Regions from separate parts of the Homo sapiens genome. Here regions 1 and 2 are each linked to region 3. The links come from fine-mapping of genetic effects on gene expression. A gene starts in region 3. Each other region holds a variant in brackets. All regions are shown on one strand. Distances are from middle to middle. Region 1 has its middle 4.3 kb from the start of CST1. Region 2 overlaps LOC107985383 (a long non-coding RNA gene). Region 3 holds the start of CST3 (cystatin C).

Region 1 (5,250 bases), 120 kb before region 3:
CTCAATTTCAGAGCCTGTTATTGGTCTATTCAGCAATTCAGCTTCTTCCTGGTTTAGTCTTGGGAGGGTGTATGCGTCCAGGAATGTATCTATTTCTTCTAGATTTTCTAATTTATTTGCATAGAGCTGTTTATAGTATTCTCTGATGGTAGTTTGTATTTCTGTGGGATTGGTGGTGATATTCCCTTTATCATTTTTTATTGGGTCTATTGATTCTTCTCTCTTTTCTTCTTTATTAGTCTACTAGTGGTCTATCAATTTTGTTGATCTTTTCAGAAAAAACAGCTCCTGGATTCATTGATTTTTTAAAGGGTTTTTTGCGTCTCTGTCTCCTTCAGTTCTGCTCTGATCTTAGTTACTTCTTGTCTTCTGCTGGCTTTTGAACTTGTTTGCTCTTGCTTCTCTAGTTCTTTTAATTGTGATGTTAGGGTGTCGATTTTAGATCTTTCCTGCTTTCTCTTGTGAGCATTCGGTGCTATAAATTTCTCTCTACACACTGCTTTAAATGTGTCCCAGAGATTCTGGTACGTTGTGTCTTTGTTCTCATTGGCTTAAAAGAACATCTTCATTTTTTACTTCATTTTATTATTTACCCAGTAGTCATTTAGGAGCAGGTTGTTCAGTTTCCATGTAGATGTGTGTAGGGAAAAGAAAGAGAGATCAGACTGTTACTGTGTCTATGTAGAAAGAAGTAGACATAAGAGACTCCATTTTGTTCTGTAATAAGAAAAATTCTTCTACCTTGAGATGCTGTTAATCTGTAACCCTACCCCCAACCCTGTGCTGGCAGAAACAAGTGCTGTGTTGATTCAAGGTTTAACGGATTTAGGGCTAGGTAGGACGTGCTTTGTTAAACAAATGCTTGAAGGCAGCATGCTTGTTAAAAGTCATCACCACTCCCTAATCTCAAGTACACAGGGACACAAATCACTGCAGGAGGCCACAGGAACCTCTTCCTAGGAAAGCCAGGTATTGTCCAAGGTTTCTCCCCATATGAAAGTCTGAAATATGGCCTCGTGGGAAGGGAAAGACCTGACCATCCCCCAACCCCACACCTGTAAAGGGTCTGTGCTGAGGAGGATTAGTAAAAGAGGAAGGCCTCTTTGCAGTTGAGATAAGAGGAAGGCATCTGTCTCCTGCTACTCCCTAGGCAATGGAATATCTGCTTGTAAAACCCAATTGAATGTTCCATCTACTGAGATAGGAGAAAACCACCTTCAGGCTGGAGGTGAGATATGTTGCTGGCAATACTGCTCTTTAATGCACCAGATATGTTTATGTATGTGCACATCAAAGCACAGCACATTTTCTAACCTTGTTTATGACACAGAGACATTTGTTCACATGTTTTCCTGCTGACCATCTCCCCACTATTACACTATTGTCCTGCCACAACCCCCTCTCTGAGATGGTAGAGATAATGATCAATAAATACTGAGGGAACGGAGAGACCTGTGCCAGCGTGGGTCCTCCCTATGCTGAGCACTTGTCCCCTGGGCCCACTTTTCTTTCTCTATACTTTGTCTCTGTGTCTCTTTCTTTTCTCAGTCTCTCATCCCACCCAATGAGAAATGCCCACAGGTGTGGAGCAGCTGGCCACCCTTTCATCTGGTGCCCAACGTGGGTGCTTTCCTCTAGGGTGAAGGTACGCTCAAGCGTGGTCACTGAGGACAAGTTGATGAGAGATTCCCGAGTACGTCTACAGTCAGCCTTGTGGTAAGCTCGAAAGAAGCCAGGGTAACAATGGGGCAAACTAAAGTAAATATGCCTCTTATCTCAGCTCTATTAAAATTTTTGTAAAAAGTGGGGGAGTTAGTGTTTCTACAAAAAATCAAATCACGCTATTTCAAACAATAGAACGATTCTGCCCATGGTTTCTAGAACAGGGAACTTTAGATCTAAAAGATTGGAGAAAAATTGGAAAACAATTAAAACAAGCAAGTAGGGAGGGTAAAATCATCTCACTTACAGTATGGAATGATTGGGTCATTATTAAAGTAGCTTTGGAACGGTTTCAAACAGAATTACTAAGCAGAGACATCAAAGGTAGGAGGTTCTAGATAAACTGACCTAACAATATTGTTGCTAAAGCCAGGACAAAGCCTTAGACATCAAAGGAAAGAAGAACTTGGTCAGATGTTGAGGGTGATCAGATACCAAGGGTGGGGGGGAGCCTTTCTAAACTGACTTAGCAGGATTCTTTCCTAAAACTGGGCCATGAAGCCCTCGCAAGAACAGGAGGTCCAGGGCTGGGGACTAGGGTTGAGGACCAGGGCAGAGGAAGGCTCAGAGGAGCCTAACAAGGGTTTGGTCAAGGTGAGTCTTGTCACTGGATCCAGCTCTTCTGTGACAGGAGGAAAGGGCAGGCAGGGCCACAGGAGGGAGCAGGGCTGTCCTGATGGCCTCTGGCTCCAGCTCCAACACTCAGTGATTGAGTTGAACAGGATTCCAAGCAGGAAGAGGAACCAATCTCCACAGTCACTGCATTTTGCTAAAGGAATTGATATTTAAGGTTACACAAACAGTGACAGGGAAGTCCCAGCAGTGACCCAAACAGGATAAGAAAGTCTGACCACCCAGAGATGTCAAGGAGATGACTCACCTCCTCAGAGTCATCTGTTTTCCTCATGGCCAGGCCTCTGCAGGCTGTAGCCCAGGGAGTCAGATGGATCCCTGGCTGCAGCAGCCAGCAGCCCGAGTTCCGGAGGCCGCCCCTACTCCCCTCCATTCATATGTGGTTCTTCAGTCAGTGAATCTGCACTGACAAATGCTCTTTTTGATTTTTGAAAAATAAATGTTAACTTGTACTCCAGAGCCAGGAATACCATTCATGTGCTGGTCCCTGAGAGAAAGGATTCTCTTTCTCCCCACGGAGTGCAAAACAATCAGACCTGACACTGGGCTCTGCCCTCTCTTGCCTTTCCCAGCCGGGGCTGCCAGCAGGCTTCCCCATGAGTATCAGTTTCCTAATGATGTGGAAAAGCCAAATGTGGTACCAACATGGGCCCATAGTTTAGAAGCATCCACATGTCCTAACAGAGCCAAATGTGTTACCAACATGGGCCCATAATTTAGA[A/C]GCATCCACGTGTCCACGATGTGTGAGGAGAGGGAGAAAAGAAGGAAGGATGGAGTGTGAAAGAGATGAGCTTGACCCCAGAGAATTCCAGGCACTCCATAAAGGAGGCTCCTGGGCTTCCCATTTGAGAAGCCACCAAATCCTGTGGCTGTTCAGTCCCAGCTCCTACCATAGACCAAACTGTTAGTTGCTCAAAACCCAGTTGTGCAGAATCTCAACTCTTGGCCAGCTTGTCCTCACCACTTGCACTTTTACATGATGCTTTCTGCGCTTGGTCATTTATTATGGTATTGTTTAGTGTTCACTTATTATTGGTCATTTATTGCAGAGAACTTCTGCCACTCACCTAATTTCTCATCCTACTAATTCAGATAATCAGATCAGTTCACCTGTGCAGCCTAGGGGAACACAGCTTTCTCTTTTGTCACCTAGCAGAAGGAAAACATGCCCCCTCCTGGGCAGCTGGACTCCTCTAGGTTACATGGGTGCTGGAGGCCCCAAGCTTGTTCCTCAGTCCATGGTTGCTATCTGGCCCTCTTCTAGTGTGTCCTTAAAACTGTGGACTATAGAAATCAGGGAACAAAGTGTTCTGCCATTTTTTTTAGATGGGTGTTTCACTGTGTTGCACAGGCTGAAACTGAACTTCTAGACTCAAGGAATCTTCCTGACTCACTCTCCTAATAAGCTAGGATTACAGGTGCAGTACCACACCTGGCTACTCCATCATTTTTAACCATGTTGATACATCACTGCTGAAGTCTGCTCATCTCTGCTGGTCTTAACTCCCAGATACTATGCTTTAGAAAGTAGCCTCTTTCTCCAGATGCATGACAGACACACCATTTGCCTAAGGTCATCAAACATCTGGAGCAGCTGGCCAGCTACCTCAACCTGCTACTTCCTATCACTCCATACTGGACATCGCACTTGTACCTCCTCCTAAGAGCAATGTACACTGGTATTTTTCCTACTGGGATTAGAGAGCTTGCTGCATCAGAACAGCTGACCCTCCCTGCAGTGCATGCCAGTGCCCAGACAGAAGATGACCACTGGTGGTGTCATCACATACAGGGCACAGGTCAGCACTCTGGCCTCCCTCCCTCATACTCCACCCACCAGCACATTCTCGCTATTTGGGTTACCTGCATCTCCTTTCCAATGATTAAAACAAAACAAAACAAACAAACAAAAACAAACAAAAAAACAAGAGGATTGCTTGACCTTCAGTTTACCCTCTGCACAGCATGTCTTCCTGAGCCTGGACTCCCAGCTGTCCCAGGAAGGTGGGAGCCACAGAGGAGAACTAACTCCTACCCTTTGGAGATGACCATTCTGCTCCCAAACACCTGGTAAGGGACTTCCTTCTCTTTCCCTTCTTTGGAAATCTCTCCCCATTTCCTGTCTAACTAGGAGGCATATGTGCAGCTTTGTTTGAAGACCTTCCCTCCTTCACCCAGCAGTAAACACCTTCGGTACACCTGCTGTATCTGCCGGGCTGCACGGCTATTCTAGGGGTGCTGGATTCACAGTGGGGTGAGATGGTCACCAGGCCTCAGGTAACAAGGTTCCCTGTACTAATACTGAACATGAGCACCCATGAGTAATATGGTTCCCAATGCCGGGTTCCTGCTGATCCAGCCCCAGCCATGTCCCAGCCCAGGATGACTCTTGGCCAGCTTGTCCTCATCACTTGCACCTTTATGTGATGGTTTCTGCACTTGGTCATTTGTTTATTATAGTATTGTTTAGTGTTCTAAACAGGTCTGGGCTGACACTGGCCAACGCTCACCTCCACCACTCCTGGGAGAGTCCTCTGGGTGTCCTGCTAAGGTCCAGGGTTTCCTGTAGCTTCTGGCCAAGCCTGCCACCTCCCCATAAGGGCATTTGCCACAGGGTCACCTTCAGGCATGGAGGGTGGGGTTGAGAGAACAAAGGGAGCAGCTGTCTGTTCAGAGCCTCCTTCCACCCTCTCCTCTCCTGGAGTCACATTCCAGCCCAGGCCCACAGCATCCCGAGCTGGGGGCTTTGTCAGCCCATAGGACACCCAACTGACCAAATCCTCTCAGTCTGCGGAGAAGGAGAACTCACAATCCTGGCAATGAAGCAACTCGGGGGCCGCCGGAAAGCCACACTGGGCAAAGGACAAAGACACACATGGGCTCGCTCTGCAGGAC
Region 2 (5,250 bases), 28 kb before region 3:
GGGGCACAGGAATTGCCCTGTAGCTTTGTGGTTTATCTGCCACCTTGGAGGATTCTCTTCATGATCTCTTCATCTTCACATGTCATATTTCAACATATTGTCACCTTCTTTATCGTGGGGTAGGAAGACTGCCGCTCTGCGAGACTCTTCCCACCTTAGTTCCTGTCAGAAGCCCTCCATCTCTCAGAGGTCAGCCACCCACCCTCTCTGCGAAATCTGACACAGCCCAGGATCTCTCTCAGACACCTTCCAAGCCATGGGTTATAGACTCTGGGTTCCTGTAATCCATGCTTTTTTAGATTAAGAATTGCTAATGTTAATTTTCCAAATATGGTTGGCAAAGATTAAAATTGACTATCACTAATTCATAATGGAAAACCATGTGGTACTGCCCCAAATGAAGTCCATGATCAAAATTGAGAGGTGCCCTCCCCTGCACTCTCGTAAAACCTGAACCTCTAAGCTGGATCCACGGGGTGGCATTTGAGATCCACAGTCCTACATGCATAACGCCCCAACACTCTATGAGGACGGCTCTGGATTCCTCCCCAAAGCCCCAGCCCTGACAATCTGCTCATCCTCACCTCTGCCTTGGCTGAGTAACCATCCTGTGACTTACTCAGGCCTGGGCTGGAGTTCTGTTCTTTCCTCCTCACTGCGCCCTCAACCCAGCCCTCAGCAAGTCCTGCCCCGCCACCTCTCATAGGCATCCTGAGTCTCCTGTGCTCCAACTCCCGGCCACGGCACAGGCCCAGGTCACTGTCCTCTCTTTCCTGAGCAACTGCAATGTCCTCCTGACTGTTCTCCACCCTCCCATTCTCACCAACTAGAAGCCTGTTCCTTCCCTGTGGCCATGCCAGCCTTCTAATAATATAAAAGGTGTCTTGTCATGTCCTGGTAAAAGCTTTCAAAGGCTTCTCATTTCACTTGGAGTAAAATAGAAATTCTTCAGCACGGTGTGCAAGGCATGGCAGGAATTGATATCTGCTCATCCACCAAACCCAGTCTGCTTACCTCTCCTGCCAGCCGGTTCCTCACTCAATTCAGGAGCTTCCACAGGTTAGGATCATTTCCAGCTAGGGGTCGGTTTATGATTTTCTTTGCATTAAACACCATTCTTGCTGGCTTTCTGCAGCTGGCTCTTTCTCCTCCTTAAAAGTCTAGCTCACATGTTATTTCCTCAAATCGCTCCTTCCTGATCATTCTCTGCAGTTAGAATTTGGCTTGGCCACCAGTTCGTTTAAGGCAATATTGTATCCATCTCATTCTCTGTAATGTGTCTGTGCTTCTCACAATCTGTGGAATGTGGAGGACACTCAGTGTGCATACTGGATGAACATGCCTTTATGGGTGTGTCAGAGACTTTCCCAGTGTGGATAAGATGATTTCATATGGATACCTTGCTAGCAGCCCCATGAGGTGACAATGACTCTAAGACGACTTGTTAGAACTGCCATTTCAATGGCTAGAGTTTTAATTACTTTTGGATCTTTTGAAAAACAGTAAAATCTTAAAAGGAAATATCAAAATGCAACTGGGGAAGGATAAGAAATGACCCTGGGGAGGGTGGCAGGAAGCACAAGCTGTCCCAGAGGAAGAGTCCTGGAAACCAGCCAGCAGAGCCCCCACCAGCAATACTGTCAGCCTTTCTCCAGGGCTTCTCTGTGCCGACCAATTTGGCAAGAACCTCTTACACATCATCATTTTGTTCTTCACTTATTCCCAAAACATAGAGAGATTCTTTTTCTGATGAGAAGATAATTCCTAGCACACAACAGGCACACCATAACCTTATTTTGACTGAATGCGTGGAGGCATCCCACGTCCACTCTTAAGGAGAGGAGATCGCTGGAGAGTTCCAAGATTCCAGGCAGAGCTCAGCAGTGTTGAGATCACAGTGTGGGGTCTGACACTTTTTGTTGCAGTTTCCTTGTCTGAAAAATGTGGAAAACATATTTTATAAAGATTGCTGGAGAATCCATTCATTCGCTCAACTAATTCCTTACTGAGTCCAGTGCTAGGGCTGAGACCACAGCATTGAGCAAGTAGACAGTGTGCCATGTGCATGGAACAAAGGAAGCAGAGAGGCACAGGCATGGCAGCTGATAGACATCCCCTTCTTTCCTTCTAGGCCTGTGATTCTCACCAGAAGAGGGTGCCTTGGAGTAGGTTGAGCCCACTGGAAGGAAGCACAGGAGGTAAAGTGAGTGCATCTTCAATGTGATGCTACCCTAGGAAAATGCCATGGTGCTGCTGAACTACGACAGTGATAACAAATGCTGCAGTGGGAACCCAGAGACCTCAGAGAAGAGCG[A/C]TGAGGGCTTCCGGGGGAACACAAGAGCTGTTGAATGGAGTGAGCCATCAGGGGACCCGTAGTGGGCAGCTCTCAGGCTCCTGAGGGATTGGTGCCTTGTTCAGGTGCATGCACACACACAATCTCAAACACACATACACAGTCTCATGCAATAGTGTACTACTACAGAGAAAACCTGCTGTATAAATATTTCTCAGTAATGAATTTCCGCAAAAGCATGAAACTCTTTATGTTCATGGAAAATTCTAGAAAAACTCCTTGCAGGGTGCAAAAGATCTAAAACAGTGTTTGCAAACTGTTGCACACAGCACAAATGTGGCTATGAGTTAATATATATTGCTAATTACATTTTCAAAGATTCCCTGAAGAATACATTGAAATTATACTGTATACAAAAGCCTCCATTCAGAGATACCAATGCACATTAGAATATTCATTAAAACAAAAAATACTTGCAATGAGAATCTGATTCATTCTCTTCCAACTTTCCTAGACGATTCTGTTCCTCACACCCTTTGTGTTTTGCGGGGAAGGGCTAACATGTATCAGCAACCATGAGAAAGAGTGTCCTGTGAAGATAAATTGGGAAACACTGATCTAGAATAATGTTTCACCTTCTGTGAGTTCTAGTACAGAGAAAGCAAGTAAATATATTGATGATAATGGAACTAAGATTTATAAATGTCCAAGAAAAGAGCCACAACTATAGAAAGGAGGGGACTGGAAAGAATCTCATTGCATTGGGTTTGGTGTCAATATTAACTCAGAGTTTTTAATACGTAAATAGGTAATAGAACAATAGCTATCTACACGTGGGTAAGTTTCTGTGTGTATTTTGTAGCACTGACCAACAGACAAGGCCAAGAACAAGGTTCCTCTACTTCTGCACTGTGGCCATGTGAGACCTAGGAAATGTCCTATGCATTGCAGAATGTTGATCAGCATCCCTGCCCTCTCTCCCTAAATGCCAGTAGCACCTGCCTTACAAATTGGAACAACCAAACACATCCCTAGACATTACCAAATGTGCCCTGGGAAGCAAAATTGCCCCAGGTTGAGAATCTCTGACTGAGGCCTCACGGCATTCCAGGAGTGGTGAGTACAGGCAGCACGCGGGAATTGCTTTCTGCATTCACTGCAGATTCCAACCACTGATTTTCACCTTGGATCAGAGAAAGTAAAACATAAATCTAGGACTTCTTGTTATATCAGAAAGTAAGGATAAGCTCAAATAATGATGGAAATATGTCAAGAGGACACAGGAAGCAGCTTAAAGGGGCTCCCACTAGCCTATTCTGAGATAATTTTAACATTCTAATAAACAAGAGCAATACATTCTAACTCACTGAGTAAAATAAGAAACCATGAGTGGGATAGATCTATAGCAAAATAGATGACTAACAGATAGATGGATAGGTAGGTAAAAGAGAAAAGTGTTTCCTTGCAGTAGAATGAATGCCATTTATAAGTATGTTTTAAAAACGAAGTTAGGAATACAATTTGAAAGCAATCATAATAACAATTGATTCGAAGAGGAATTATTATTGTATGCTAAAGCTAGAAAGCAAAAGTGAAAACTTTATAAGTAAGACATAAATACATATTTCAAAGTATTGCTCAGTGAAATAATTCCTAATTATAAAGGAGAGAAGAGTAAACCATACTGTGGAGAGATCTGTCAGATACCATCTGAACCTAGAGATCAAAGTTAGTGTCTGTCAGCCATGGGACAGCGATGTTATGGCCTCCTGGTAGGAGGTACTGAGGGACACAAGATCACATCTACAATTCTTCTCTGAAAATCTGCATAGCCTGAATCTCATCCATTGACAAAGCCCAGTTGAGGACATTCCATGAAATCGCCAGTTATCTTCAAAAATGACAAGATTACAAAGATAAGAAAGACTGAGAAACGGTTTCAGATCAGAGGAGACTGAGGCGGCCTGACAATGACACACAGTTGATGAATTGCATGGATGACAGATTAGACGACAATGTGGACCCATGCTAGTGCTGTGATTCCTCTCACTGCACTGAGGCTGTGCTGGAGAATGTCCTTGGCCTTAGGGGACACAGATGAGAATGTCTAGGGACAAAAGGAGTCACACCTGCAGCTTGCTCTGAAATGGCTCAGGAAAAGCTGTAACAGTGCATACACATATAGAAAGAGGGAAAAGCGCGCGAGACACAATGTGAGGAGTGGGAGGGTCTGGGTGTGTACAGGAGCTCTTTATATTACTCTTGCTGCTTTTTGTAAGTTTGAAGTCACTTCAAAACTACAATAAAAAAGTTTATTATTACTTCTTTTCTAATAAATATAGAAAAATAAAATTGCTTCATTTTTTCTATATTTATTAATGGCATTCTTTTTACTCCAAGGAAGAACTTTTCTCCTTTATCTGTATCTATCTTTCCATCTCTCTATTTGTTAATCATCTATTTATCCACAGATCTAGAAGATTCATGGTTTCTTATTTTATTCAATGAATTGTAATCTATTACTATCATTTATTTGAATGTTTAAATTTTCTCAGAGTTGACTAGTAGAGCCCCTTTAAGCTGCTTCCTGTGTCCTCCTGACATACTTCCATCATCTTTTTATCTTTTACAAAAAATTAAAAATTAAAAATACAGCAAAGTGCTGCCTCAGCACTGAGACCCCAGCCCCACCCAGCACACACAGGCCTGTGTGCTCAGCTTGTTGGAAAGTCCCGGCTCATGCTTCCCATCCTAGCATGGACTTCCAGCCAAGCCACAGTACCATGAAGCTACAGGCCAGCTGGTTACTACGGATGTGTTTCACCAGCGTCCACACCCTGTACTGTTCCTTGGAGCAGAGAAACGGGGTGTGAGACGGCAGGGACTAGGGCACTGAAGAGAATGCATGGGCAGAGACTGAGGAAGGAGCTCCCTCTGCTTCCCCCAGATGTGTTGCC
Region 3 (5,148 bases):
CGCCATAAGGGCATTTGCCACAGGGTCACCTTCAGGCATGGAGGGTGGGGTTGAGAGAACAAAGGGAGCAGCTGTCTGTTCAGAGCCTCCTTTCCACCCTCGCCACTCCTGGAGTCACATTCCAGCCCAGGTCCGCAGCATCCCAAGCTGGGGACTTTGTCACCCCACAGGGCACCCAGCTGATCAGGTCCTCTCAGTCTGGGGAGAAGAACTCACAATCCTGGCAATGAAGGAACTCAGGGCCCACTGGAAAGCCACACTGAGCAAAGGACAAAGACACACCCAGGCTTGCTCTGCAGGACTCCATTTCTGGGAAGCTCAAGGACAGGCGACAAACGAGTCTATAGGGCAGGATGGGGGCTGCCAGGGCAGGATGGGCATGAGGGTGAGCTGCAGAGGCAGGAGGACACACCGTCTGGGGCAAGGCAGATGTCACAGGTCTGGACAAAGTGGTAACACGGGTATATGCGTTAATGAAATCCCCCAGATTAGACATTTTGTTGTCTATAAATTCTACCTCACTCACAGTGATGTTCTAAACTCAGGTGAGTTTTCCAAGCAGTGCAGAGGACCAGCGCCAGCAGCATGACGCCCAGAGGGGAGGAGCAAGAGACACCCGTGGGCTCCCACATTCATCCTGTGGCTGCTGCTCCCTCTCCTGACACCCCCACTGCCTGCCAATGGGTCTCACTGCACCTTCCACCCGGCCCCACCCACAGTTACCATGAGACTCCAGATCGTTCCCTTCCCTGCTCACACTCCCTCCAGGAGCTTCCTCTTCCTGGAGCAGGCATGCCCAGCCCCGCCTCAGGGCCTTTGCACTGGCCCTTCCCGCTGCCTGGGGCTGTTTCCTGTCTAGGCAGGGCTTCTCACCTTTCCAGTCTCATAGAGTCCTCCCTGACCAGGTCCAGTGGCATCATCTCTCTCTATCCCATACTCTCACTTCCAACAGAGAGACTAATTTCCTGATATTAATTATTGATCACTATTCGCCATCCTCCCACACACCCTAATGCTGGGCTGTGCAGTGCCACAGCCACCAGCCACATGTGGCCACAGGGTGCTTGAAATGGGGCCAGTACAATTGACACCCACATACACAGGGAATTTCAAAGACTCAGTACACACACCCAAAATAAAATAACCTATGTTATTAATGATTCTTCTTATGTGTTGAAATAATATTTTGGATATATTAGGTTAAGTAAGAAATATTATAAACATTACCTTCACCTGTTTCTTTTTTACTTTTTGAAATGTGTCTCCCAGAAAGTTTTAAATTGCTCCTGGGTTCGTGTCACATTTCTGTCTGGCAGCAGCCCTGCAATGTAGTGTCCATGGCTCGGTCACCCAGGCTCCGTCTCTAGCTCCTAGACTACCTGGTGCAGGGGGAAGCTGGTGAAAAGTCTGTTTACTGAATAATGAGTTGTGAAAGGAGAACCCAGAGTTTTTTACTCAAATAAAGGTTAATTCTTCTGTTTGAAAAGTTCCCTAGCACAGGGCATGGCCTGAGTCTCCTGTGGCCTCTGGAATCACACCTCTGCCTTAGTGATTTCTAGACCTTGACCAAATGCTCACGGATACTCAGGACCTCTGAAGACTCCGGAAGGCCGAGACCTCTATCTTTCCCTTTTCTGAGGAAATGAAGCTAGGGGGTCGTATGCTTTTAGGGCCCAGGGGGCCTTGACACCTCTCTGGAGGGCAGGGTGACCTAAGCTTGGGAGGAGGGACAGGTCTTTGGGAAGAGATGGAGCTGAGGGGGTGGAGTGGGTAGAAGGGGGGCATAGGTGTGGAAGGGGTGGGGGAAGAGGGGCCAGGAGTGGGGTGAGAAGAGGGGAAAGAAGAGGATAGGAGGGACAGGGACAGGGAGAGGCCAGGAATGGGTAGGAAGGGAAGACAGAGGAGGGGCGGGACGAGGGAGGGGCGATGAAGAGGGGCCGAGCTGGGGTGGGGGCGAAGTGGGAGCAAGGACAGGAGTGGAGGAGGGAGATGAGGGGCATGGGAGGCGGTGTCTGGGGGTTGAAAGGGGAAAGGGACAGAGGAGAAGGAGCCTGAAGAGTGGCGGCATGGAGGGGCCCGAAGTGGGGAGGTGGGAATGGTCGGATGGATGGGGAGGAATGGGGAGGATAGGAGAGGCAGGGGAGGCTGGAAGACAGTAGGAGAGGAGGGGGAGGGGAGGGGAGGGGATGGATGGGAATGGATAGGGAAGGCCAGGGAGACTGGGGGGCCAGGGGAGGAGGGGAGGGAGAGGGGAGGCGGGAAGGGAGAGGAGAGGCCGGGAGGGGCTGGGAGGGGAGGGAAGGGGATGGATGGGGAAGGACAGGGAAGCCTGGAGGGGCAGGGGAGGCTGGGATGGGAGGAGACTGATAGGGAGGGACCTGGAGGCGGGGAGAGGCAGGGGAGGCGGGGAGAGGCAGGGGAGGCGGGGAGGGAGAAGGGAGGTGGGAGGGACGAGGCGTTCCGGAAAAGGGAGTGCAGGCCGCGGTGGGGTGGGGCGGCGAAGGCCGGAAGGGATAAAACCGCAGTCGCCGGCCTCGCGGGGCTCACGGCCTCGCCTCGGTATCGCAGCGGGTCCTCTCTATCTAGCTCCAGCCTCTCGCCTGCGCCCCACTCCCCGCGTCCCGCGTCCTAGCCGACCATGGCCGGGCCCCTGCGCGCCCCGCTGCTCCTGCTGGCCATCCTGGCCGTGGCCCTGGCCGTGAGCCCCGCGGCCGGCTCCAGTCCCGGCAAGCCGCCGCGCCTAGTGGGAGGCCCCATGGACGCCAGCGTGGAGGAGGAGGGTGTGCGGCGTGCACTGGACTTTGCCGTCGGCGAGTACAACAAAGCCAGCAACGACATGTACCACAGCCGCGCGCTGCAGGTGGTGCGCGCCCGCAAGCAGGTGCGTGCCGCCCCCCGCAGGGTCCGAAGCCCCGGCCCCGCCGTCCCAGCCTCCCCCCGCGCTGCTCCCGGACCCCGTGCTGCTCCTCTCCGGCGCCTGGGCTTCTCACCCGGACCCTGTTCCCGGTCTTCGCTGTCACCCCCGAGCCCTTGGCGGGCGTGTCCGGGAATGCCCTGAGTCTGGCCTGGCCTGGAACCGCACGGACACGTCAGGTCCGCGCCCGGCGCCTAAGATCAGCTTCCAGGAGCCAGCTCGAGCTGCGCCGCAGCGCGGGGGCAGGCACAGGACGTCCCACACAGCTCTGTCCCGACCTCCTGGGACGCTGGGCTCCGGGTGCGCTGCTGAATACGCAGGAGAAGGAAAAACAGAGCCCCTCATCTGGCTGCCTCCTTGTTCTTCCACCAAATAATTTTTAAGCACTTTTGTTTCTTTTAACTTTTTATTCTCCCGTAATTTCAGACTTACAGAGCAGCTGCAAAATAGCACAGGGCATCCCTGTAGATCTTTCACCCAGATCCCTCAGATGTTAGCACAGATGTTAACATTTTGCCCTGTTTGTTCCCCCCAGCTCACTTTCCGAATGTGAATATGGGTGTGTGTATATGTACTGTATATGCATTTTTTGCCTGAATCTTTTGAAAGTAAACACTTCAGTGTGTTTTTCCTAAAAACAAGGGCAATATCGCACATAATCACTATTCCATTTTGAAAATCAGCACTGACACATTCATGATCTAATGCTCAGACTCATTCAGCTTTCCCTGTCTGTTGACGGCCTTCGTGCCCTAGGACGCTCCTGGGCCATGAGTGCATGAGTTCAGCCCTGTCCTGTCCCCTCGGCCTCTTTTAACCTGCAGCAGCAGCTGGGTCTGTGCCACGACCGTGCCATTTCCCAGGGTCTAGCAGGTGTGGATGGAGACTATGCTGACTCTGGGTGGGCTTGATGCTGCTCAAGATGAGATCTAGGCCATGCGGCTCATCCTCCTCCCAGAATACTCTCCGCAGGGGCCACACGTGAGCCTGGCACCTTGTCCTGCAGAGCCCTGCTTCCCTCCCCAAGTCACACCCCTGGGCACAGTCCCCTAGGACTAGCGGCCTTCACCCTCAGGCCGGCTGACCACCCCCTACATCCCAGGGCAGCTGAGTCCCTGCTGGGGTGGAGCATGCCTGACCCTGCCTCTATCAGCTGATGCAGAGTTAGACCTCAGCCAGATGAAGACACCCAGCAGACCGGAGTAGGGGGTCGGATCGGGAGGGAGCTTCAGTAGGGCTACCAGGCCCAGCTTGACCTGCATCCCATGGCAGAGCAGCGAACAGTGACACAGACTTTAGAGCTCCTCCACCTTCTCTTGGAAATTCAGAGGAGTCCAGACCAGCCGCGTTTCTCCCGCAGCCGTCAGCTGGGGCCCTCTCCCTGCACAGGAGGGCCATTCCCTGGTGTAGGGTCCCCGCTGGCCTGCACCTCTCTCTCACTGGGAGTGAAGCATGGGGCATTGTAGATCGTTGGGCCCTGGAGCCTATTTTACAGAGGAGCAGACTGACACCAGAGGGATCACAGGCCTTGCTTGTGCTTCTACAGGACTTGTGTGTGGTTCCACAGGGCAAGGTCTAGCACCCTGGTCCCAGGGTCCCTCATCCCATGCTTCTCCACAGTTCTGACAAGTCATGTTTTGGGGCGGCACTGTGCAGGGAAAGCATTCAGTTCTCTTCTGAAGTTGCAACCCTAAGACATGCAGGTGTGTGACTCACTTTAGAAATATTGCCTTGAAAATCACACCTGGAATGGAAGCACGTGGGAAGCAATGTTTATTGGCCTAAAACATCAATGTATGTGAGCATCTCATCTCCTAGTGAGAAATGAGGAAAAATACCTCTGGGTTAAATGGCAGGAATGAGATGCTCTGTGGACTGAATGCCAGGAACTGGAAGTTTGCCGAAATTTCATCATCACATGAGAACCTTCCTAGAATAGATCCAGTGTCCCTGCCCCCTGGGTCATAGGTAGCGGAATTCAGTTAATCCTTGGCATTGGCATAGAGAAACAAGTTACCGGGGAGGCCTGGGGCATGGCATCCCTGCCAGCTGGCAGGAGGAGGTGGCTTGTGTGCCTTGCAGGTGACAATGTGGGCAGCTCATGAAGGTAGGCTTGAAGCCCCAGGCAAGCCCAGTGACCCGGTCACAGTGAAGTGCCTGTGTGTGTAAGAAACTGACAGAACGTGCTGTCCCTGCCTCCTGCTCTTTCACATGTGTAGATCGTAGCTGGGGTG

The links. PIP is the estimated chance that this variant, and not a neighbour inherited with it, causes the effect.
Region 1: its variant is fine-mapped to the expression of CST3 in whole blood (TOPMed, PIP above 0.99).
Region 2: its variant is fine-mapped to the expression of CST3 in whole blood (TOPMed, PIP 0.93).

Annotation. Positions count from the first base shown.
Region 1 is chr20:23,752,637-23,757,886 of GRCh38, reverse strand. No RefSeq gene overlaps it. Among named protein-coding and RNA genes, the nearest start is that of CST1, 4.3 kb to the right of the region's middle. RefSeq lists enhancers at 575-1,325, 4,684-5,197, 5,198-5,250. The variant A/C (reference allele first, on the strand shown) is at 3,077.
Region 2 is chr20:23,663,267-23,668,516 of GRCh38, reverse strand. It overlaps LOC107985383 (a long non-coding RNA gene), which reads right to left. Exons shown (of 5, transcript XR_001754712.2): 3 at 1,015-2,179. Among named protein-coding and RNA genes, the nearest start is that of CST4, 23 kb to the left of the region's middle. The variant A/C (reference allele first, on the strand shown) is at 2,315.
Region 3 is chr20:23,635,353-23,640,500 of GRCh38, reverse strand. It overlaps CST3 (cystatin C), which reads left to right and starts at 2,546. Exons shown (of 3, transcript NM_000099.4): 1 at 2,546-2,881; 2 at 5,134-5,148. The coding sequence starts at 2,639. RefSeq lists silencers at 2,392-2,731, 2,762-3,011.